2 linked regions of the Homo sapiens genome follow. The protein of the gene in region 1 interacts with the protein of each later gene in a pairwise test. Each region holds a gene or a part of one and is shown in the gene's direction. Other genes may lie near its edges.

Region 1 (3,953 bases):
TTCTTGGCCTACTAGGACAGTTCTGTGCTTCACCATGAGGTTTGCCTTTGTGGAAAACTGGTGACAGTGAGAATATAAACTCAATGTGAATCACGTGATACTTCGCAGGCGTGTGTTACAGTGGAGTCAGCTGACAGTATTTTGCTTTTTAACTCTATTGTTGCCTTTCCAAGTGACCTCTCCTCTTCTTTTAAAAAAAGAACACTTTCTGCTCATATCATAACCAGGTCCAACCCAGCTTCTTGGCATGAGGTTTACCCTGGTAACAACTCATGTGCAACTGGTAGTCTTGACCACATTCCATCCATTTCCTCAGGTTTCTGTGGTTCAGTAGCCCAGACCTGTTTGGCAGCCATTTCTAGCAGGGGCGGGGCCTCTTTATTTCTCTCCACCCTAACTCAGACCTCACCTTCCTCCCACCCACCCCTGCCTTGCTTTTCTTCCTCTTCCCCCAACCTAACTTCTGCCATGGGAACTGGTTAAAAACACTGCTCTAAAAACCATCTTCCAATTTCATAGAGATTTCTCACAAGTTATTTCATTCATAATCCACCATGAACAGTGACTAGCTTCGTGCAGTTGTTCATGTGATGTGTGTGTGTCTTTTCCTATTCAGAACTATGTGCTTGTCAAAATTATTTCTGGGTTGATTCAAAGGGAGGACTTGCTGGGGACCAGAATCCAAACGGCCTCAAGTGGAATTTTAAAACCTAGCCTGTCTCTTTTCCCTGGGATCCCTCTGTCAACCCCACGCCTTTTAGGAAAAAGAAAAGTGAGTGAACAGCAAGGAAGAGTGTTTGCACAGTACAGTAACATTTGGTTGTTCTTAAGGCTCTTTTCTTACAAAAATAAGAGACCCTCCAACCACGGGCTGTTTAGGAGGATGCCTGCTTGGGTCTCCAAATGGCTGGGGTAGGAATGGTTGTTGGGGCAGAGCCAGTGGAGGTGAGTGACCCTGAGACTAATGAACATCCCACCTAAATCCAGTCCTCCCCTTGGATCTGCCTTTGTCCTGCTTGTGTATCCAGGCAACCTCTTTTCAAGTTGGTCAGGCTTTGGACAGGTGAGTGATTTGCTGTATGTGTTTGTTTCTCTGCGTTACCTGGGGGTGCCTTGATTAAAATCGAACTTTATTACATACTGATTCTGGAACAAAACAGTTAGAAAAACTTTAAAAAAAAAAAAACCGACAAAGTTACGAGGCCATCCTGCTATTTATCTTCTGAGTTCCCAGCAATGACTCAGGCATCAGAGATGATGCTGCAGTGGAAAACCTGACTCTGTGTGTCTGCAACTGAATGTTGTGCGAGTAATTTATTAACTGTCTTTCTAAAGGTTTGCTGCTTTTAAGATGCACTATAATTCGGGATGTAATCCTTACATTGCTTTTCCAAGGAAGGGAACAAAAGTCTAGTGATTAGTATGCCAACTGCCACTACTCCTTCAAAAGGAGCCAGGACCAGCGACAAGACTCATGAGAGGACTGGCTAAAGTGAAGTGTGCACAGTGTGAAGTTTAATGCTGTTGTCAAGAGGCCTAAACCCACATTTTCTCTTTTAATATTTTATGATTGCCATCAAAGAAGAAGAAAAAGAAGGAACAGACAAAGGTTTGAAAATGATAAGCCTGTTAAGACACCAAAAACTCCTGTCCCGTGAAGCTGCTTGACATCCTGTGGAGTAGCATAATCCTCTCAAAATGAGGAAGAGCTGCCTGCAAAGCTTTCTCAAGTCCCTATTTGGCTACCTACTTCTCTACATTATGCCCCATTTAAACTAGGAGCTGTCTTAGAAATGACTTCAAACTGCTTCACTATTGCTTACAGTTTAGGAGGAGTCTCAGATCCAGAAGGAGCAAGAATCAAGTTTGGTCCTCAAATGACTGTAAATAGACTAAAGAACAAGGTGTTTTTTGTTTTTGTTTTTGTTTTCTAAGAATAAAGCTGTTCGTTGTATCATGAGTTAGTGTTTCTTCCCCAAACTGAAGACTGTGTTGGAAGTGCAATTTCTGGTGAGTCAGTCCACAATACAATGCCCTGTGTGGAGTTGGTATTCATACAGGAAATCTGTGTGCACGAGGCATTGTGTGTTGAAAGTGTATGTTTATAGTACTGCCTGAGCCATCTCATGACCCCAGCGTCCAAAACCGATGCTGTAGAACAGAACATATCTGTACACAAATAGTGTGTGCAAATAGCATTTGTACATAGAAAAGTCTCATTGTGGCAGATTGAGCATAAATTATTCAACTGACGGTGCAAAAACATTACTTGCAAAGAAAAGTTTATAGTATTTTCCTACACTCCACCCTGGGAGATGATATTTCTATCAAATGAATATCAGTGCATTTTAAATGTAATATGAAAACGATGCTGCCATTTTGTGAAGAATACCCACTTGGTTGCAGAGGCCAACTTTCATAGCTTTGATTTAATGTTGTGACACGGTGTATGCATTTTGCTGTCAAGCAATGGATAAACAGCTCTGACTTTCATTCTCATTCCAGTTTATTGACCTCAGATAAAACACTGGCCCTTCTTAGAAGCAGAAGTGTGCACCAAGACCATTCATTTCAGGTAGACTCACATTCAGTGCCAAGTGCTCCCATGGGAATAATCAGACGCATATGTTGCGAAAGAGTGAAGGGACTTGGACAAAGAGGGGTTTTCCTACAGATGGATGCTCAGTCTTCTACCAAAACATGTTTGGAGGCAGAACTATGACCTCCCCTTAAGTCCTAACAATGTATTTTGTGTGTGCAAATCCTGGGATGCCCGTTTCACGCTCTGACATAAAGACATGGCACCTCTAGTGAGTGATCAGGAAGATTCCATATGCATTTGGGAGCTTCAGGTGCTTGTTAGACACAGTGAGCCATTCAAGGCAAGCACCACCTTTGCTAGTGAGGCCAAGAGAGCCTGTGACAATTTGACAATTTGTTCCAGAACCAGTCTGATGCAAGTGCACCTCTAATATATGCCTTACAAACTCCAGAGGCCATATTCAAAACAGGGTCTTCTCAGTGTATGCAAGGGGCTGCAGCCCCTCTTCTCTTCCTCCCCAGGTTGAACAATACGGACAGTTTTCACACATATCTACCTGTATAACCCTCTGTACCTCTCATAACTGGTCAACGACTGTAACAGGTTACATCAGGTGTTTTTCTACATACTTTTTACACAGATTCTATGCGATTAATGTAATTTAATTCAATGCATCATTTTATTGTACTAGTTCTTAGGCTTGTCCTTATTTTTTTCTAAGTGATTGTGGTTTTTCTCGTGGTTTTTATTGTAAAAAATGAAAGGCTGTTGATGCTTATTCTCTGTAACTAAGAATTTTTACCTTTTGGGGGAAAAAAGCATTGCTATGAACTAATGAATTGAAACTTCATTTACTCATTGTAAATACACTATTGTGCAAAAAAAGTTTTCACTCAATTGAATTGCTAGTGTTAACTGAATTTTGTCTAGACACCATTTCTGTTGATGAAATAAAGACATATCATTATGCATTGTAAACTGATTTTCTCTGCCTCTGATCCCTATGTTCCAAATTACAGAGTGAGAAACCTCAGGAAATCTTTTTTCCTAGAGGCCATTTCTCTTCCTCTAGTTTGGACCCTTACTTGCTACCTGATTAATCTGATTAGGAATCTTTAAAATTGGATAATATTAATGTGATTCCTAAACTCTGAATTTTAAAAATCCCTAGTGCCTGTGAGAGTAGATAAAAGGCTTTAAACCCAATTTCTCGGTTTTGATATTGTGCTATCGCTATGCAGAATGTTACCACGGGAGAAAACTGGGTGATGGGTATCATTTCTTGCAACTGCATGTGAATCTGCAATTATATCCAAAATAGGCTGAATTTTTTAAAAACTAAATGAAAGTAAATGAGAAAGAACATTAAGCCAACACCAAGATGCAGTGAGTTGCAAGGAAAGATGTTTAG
Region 2 (3,600 bases), on another chromosome or scaffold:
ACTGCAGCCTTGACCTCCCAGGCTCAAGTGATCCTCCCACTTCAGCCTCTCAACTAGCTGAGACCACAGGCACACACCTCCACATCTGGCTAATTTTTGTATTTTTTTAGAGATGGGGTTTTATCATGTTGCCCAGGGTAGCCTCGAACTCCTGAGCTCAAGCGATCCACCCGTCTCGGCCTCCCAAAGTGCTGGGATTACAACTGTGAGCCACCATGCCCGGACAAGGGGCAAGTATTTTTAAATTGATCCACCAATGTTTAAAAATTGGGAAATTTCACATTTTAAAATTAGGATTTCTGACTTCTCTTGAAAAAAAAAATAAACAAAAAACTGAAAATCTGGCAAAATAGGCTAGAGCTGAGTAGTATCTGCCACCTTTGAAAAAATACAGAGCGTTCTAAGTCACAGCAGCACCACTGCTCCCTGTGGTCATACACATTACACCAGAGAGTGCATTTGAGTTTGCAACTAATGGCCTTTCCTGGTGGCCATCATCAGAATCTCAAGGCCTATAGCTCCAGCCCAAGAGATTCCCAATCCTGGAGGTTCCGCTGGGGTGGGGCTCAGTGCTGGGCTGCAGGGAGATGCTCAGGAAGCCAGCACTGCAGAGCAAAGGAGATGGAGATGGTGACTGGGAGCATTTTCACTGTGTGCATAGTGTGTGAAGTTAAGGCACAGAATGGAATTGTCATATCCTGATGATTTTTAGGAACCTGCAGGATGAAATGGCTCAGTCAACCTCTCCATGCCCCTTAGCTCCATCTATTGAAACACTACATATCCTTCAAGACCTGAAGTAAATGGCACCTCCTATGATAGTGACTGAGTTGAAATCTACCACCCATTGACCTCTATTCTCTGAGCTTCATGACCCTTTCCTCGGTATTTGGAGGCAGCAGATCTTCCCTGTGCTGAGTCGTATTTTCCCCAGTGCTGCCCTGGGCTCCCTGTGAAGACACCTCAGTTTCCAGGCACCTGGAGTCCCATGCGGGGCATTTCTCCAGAAATAACTCAGTGACTCAAACAGGAGAAATCGGGAAGATGAAAAACGTTCTGGAAACAGATGGTTGGTGATGGTTGCACAGCAGTGTGAGTGTGCTTAATGCCACCAAACTGTATGCTTAAAAATGGTTAAAATGGTTCAAAAAGAGGTGGGGGGACAGAAGGGACCCTGAGGTGATGGCACTGTTTAGTGTCTTGACTGTGTAGGTGGATACATGAAGCTACATAGGTGATAGCATTGTATATAATTAAACACACATACACATTCATGAGTGTAAGTAAAACGGAAGAAATCTGAATGATACAGGTGGGTTAATATTCTGGCTGTGATATTAGTTCTCTAAAATGTTACCATTGGAGAAAACTGGGCAAAATGTACAAGGGATCTCTTTGTATTGTTTTCCAACTGCCTGTGAATCTGCAATTATCTCAATTAAAATTTCAATTAAAAAAAATGAGGAGAGGGCCTGTGCTTTGCCCAGCAGATCTCTCCTCAGGGACAGGATCTGTCCTGGACCACCATCCCCTCCCAGATGCCTGAAAAGTGTGCAGTCAGTGGGTGGCAGGAACATTAAAGTGTCCCTGGGTCATAAGCTTCATCACAGGCCACCTAATAGTTAACAAAGAGGGCTTCGGGGTGAAGTATACCCCTTTGTCTCATACTCAAGTCCCTGTGTCTCTATAGGTCTCCTCCTGTCCCACCTGGCCTCCTCCTCTTCCCCCAGAGCCCCGCTCCGGCCAGGCCAGGCCCCTCCCTGCTTCCTGCACGTGGCATGCCCGTGGCTGCCTCGAGGCCTCCGCTCACACTGTTTCCCGGCCTAGATTGCCTTCTCCACTTTCTCACTCCCCAATCATTAAGAATACCAATACTTATGATTGCCAAAAATAAAGTGGAATAAAACAAATCATGTTATGTTTTCAATCAACTTTCTATTAGTACCGATTTCAGAAATGAAATTTATTTTAGGAGATTACCCCTATCCTTATCTCTACCCATCCCTATCTTTTTTTTTTTTTATTATACTTTAAGTTTTAGGGTACATGTGCACATTGTGCAGGTTAGTTACATATGTATACATGTGCCATGCTGGTGCGCTGCACCCACTAACTCGTCATCTAGCATTAGGTACATCTCCCAATGCTATCCCTCCCCCCTCCCCCCACCCCACCACAGTCCCCAAAATGCTTGCTTGTGGAGTTTTACTTTGCAAAAAAATAAAAATAAATAAAGAGTACACTGTATAGCTTCCAAAAAAAAAAAAAAAAAAAGAATACCAATACTTTCACACACAATGCAGACACCTATTACTTCACTTTGTCTTCTGAATACCTCTGGAGGTTAGCATAGCAGGGACTATTTTCCCTATTTTACAAGCCACCAGATAGATTCAGAGAGGTCAAGTGACTTGCCCAGGCTCACACAGTAAGAAGTGGAAACAGGTCATTAGACTCCTGATGCAGGGCTCATCCCAGTAGGCCACACTGTTGAGAGACCCAGGCTGCCGCACCTCTCTGTTTCCCCAGACCCCACGGAACCTGGCTCCTGCCCACACCTCCACCTTTATTTGGTCTCCATTTCTTGCTCCCTGTGCTCCAGCCACCTCTGCCTTCCTGCTACTTCTCCATCATGCCAAGCTCATTCCTTCTTCAGGGCCTTTGTACTCACTGCCCTCTCCTGAAGTGCTCTTTCTCCAGTATCACAGAGCCAGCTCCTCCACCCCTTCCAATTCCAGCTCAAATGTGCCTCCTCTGTGACACTTCCCTGGAAGACCTTAGCTTCCCCACCCCAGTCACTCTCTATCATGCCACCCTGTATTATTTTTTCTGCATAGCACTTTCTATGTAAAATGTGCTTGTTTACTTACCTCTCCCCCACTATATGAAGCATCATGATAGAATAAATTCCATCCATCTAGTTTAAAAACGTATCTTGGGCCCAACATTGTGCCTGGCATGCATGAGACACCCAGTAAATGTGTGTTGAAGGAATGAATGCAGCTGTAGTGGCCTCCTGACGCTGCCCTTCCCACAGGCTGGCGGCGCGCATCATGTGGCGGGTGGAGAGAGAAGGCACCGGGCTCACGGAGGGCTGCCTGGTGTCCGTGGACGACTTGCAGAACCACGTGGAGCACTTTGGGGAGGAGGAGCAGAAGGACCTGCGGGTGGACGTGGACACATTCTTGCAGTACTGGCCGCCGCAGAGCCAGCAGTTCAGCATGCAGTACATCTCGCACATCTTCGGAGTGGTAGGCCCCCTGCGTCCCTTCTCCATCCTCCCTGTCTGTCTCCTCTTTCCTTCCCTCCTCCCACTTGGGGAGGGTGGGGCTTCTCAGAAGTGAACTAAGAGGCAGAAGCCCTGTCTGCCCTGGACCCTGATTTCTATTTCCATAAAGGTCTCATCTAGCCCAGGCAGCCAGAGGCGCTGGAGAAACCGCCTTCTATTTACCGCATGTAGCAGAAACATCTACTGCCCCTTCCATTTCTGAGCCCAGGGACAGGCCTCCAAATGACCCAACTAATAAAATCCGGAGATTCTAGAGTATGATTCCTTATCAAGGAGGGGCCATGGTGACAGCTGGGATCGTCCAACTAAGA

What was found.
Region 2: the proteins of BACH2 (region 1) and SMYD1 interact in binary tests that used the Homo sapiens proteins (3 or more experiments, as listed by UniProt).

Annotation. Positions count from the first base shown.
Region 1 is NC_000006.12:89,926,099-89,930,051, reverse strand, and holds the end of BACH2 (transcription regulator protein BACH2), read left to right. Parts: 3' UTR 1-3,524; downstream 3,525-3,953. UniProt on the Homo sapiens protein: Transcriptional regulator that acts as a repressor or activator. Binds to Maf recognition elements (MARE). Plays an important role in coordinating transcription activation and repression by MAFK.
Region 2 is NC_000002.12:88,084,825-88,088,424, forward strand, and holds part of SMYD1 (histone-lysine N-methyltransferase SMYD1), read left to right. Parts: intron 1-3,037; coding exon 3,038-3,251; intron 3,252-3,600. UniProt on the Homo sapiens protein: Methylates histone H3 at 'Lys-4' (H3K4me), seems able to perform both mono-, di-, and trimethylation. Acts as a transcriptional repressor. Essential for cardiomyocyte differentiation and cardiac morphogenesis.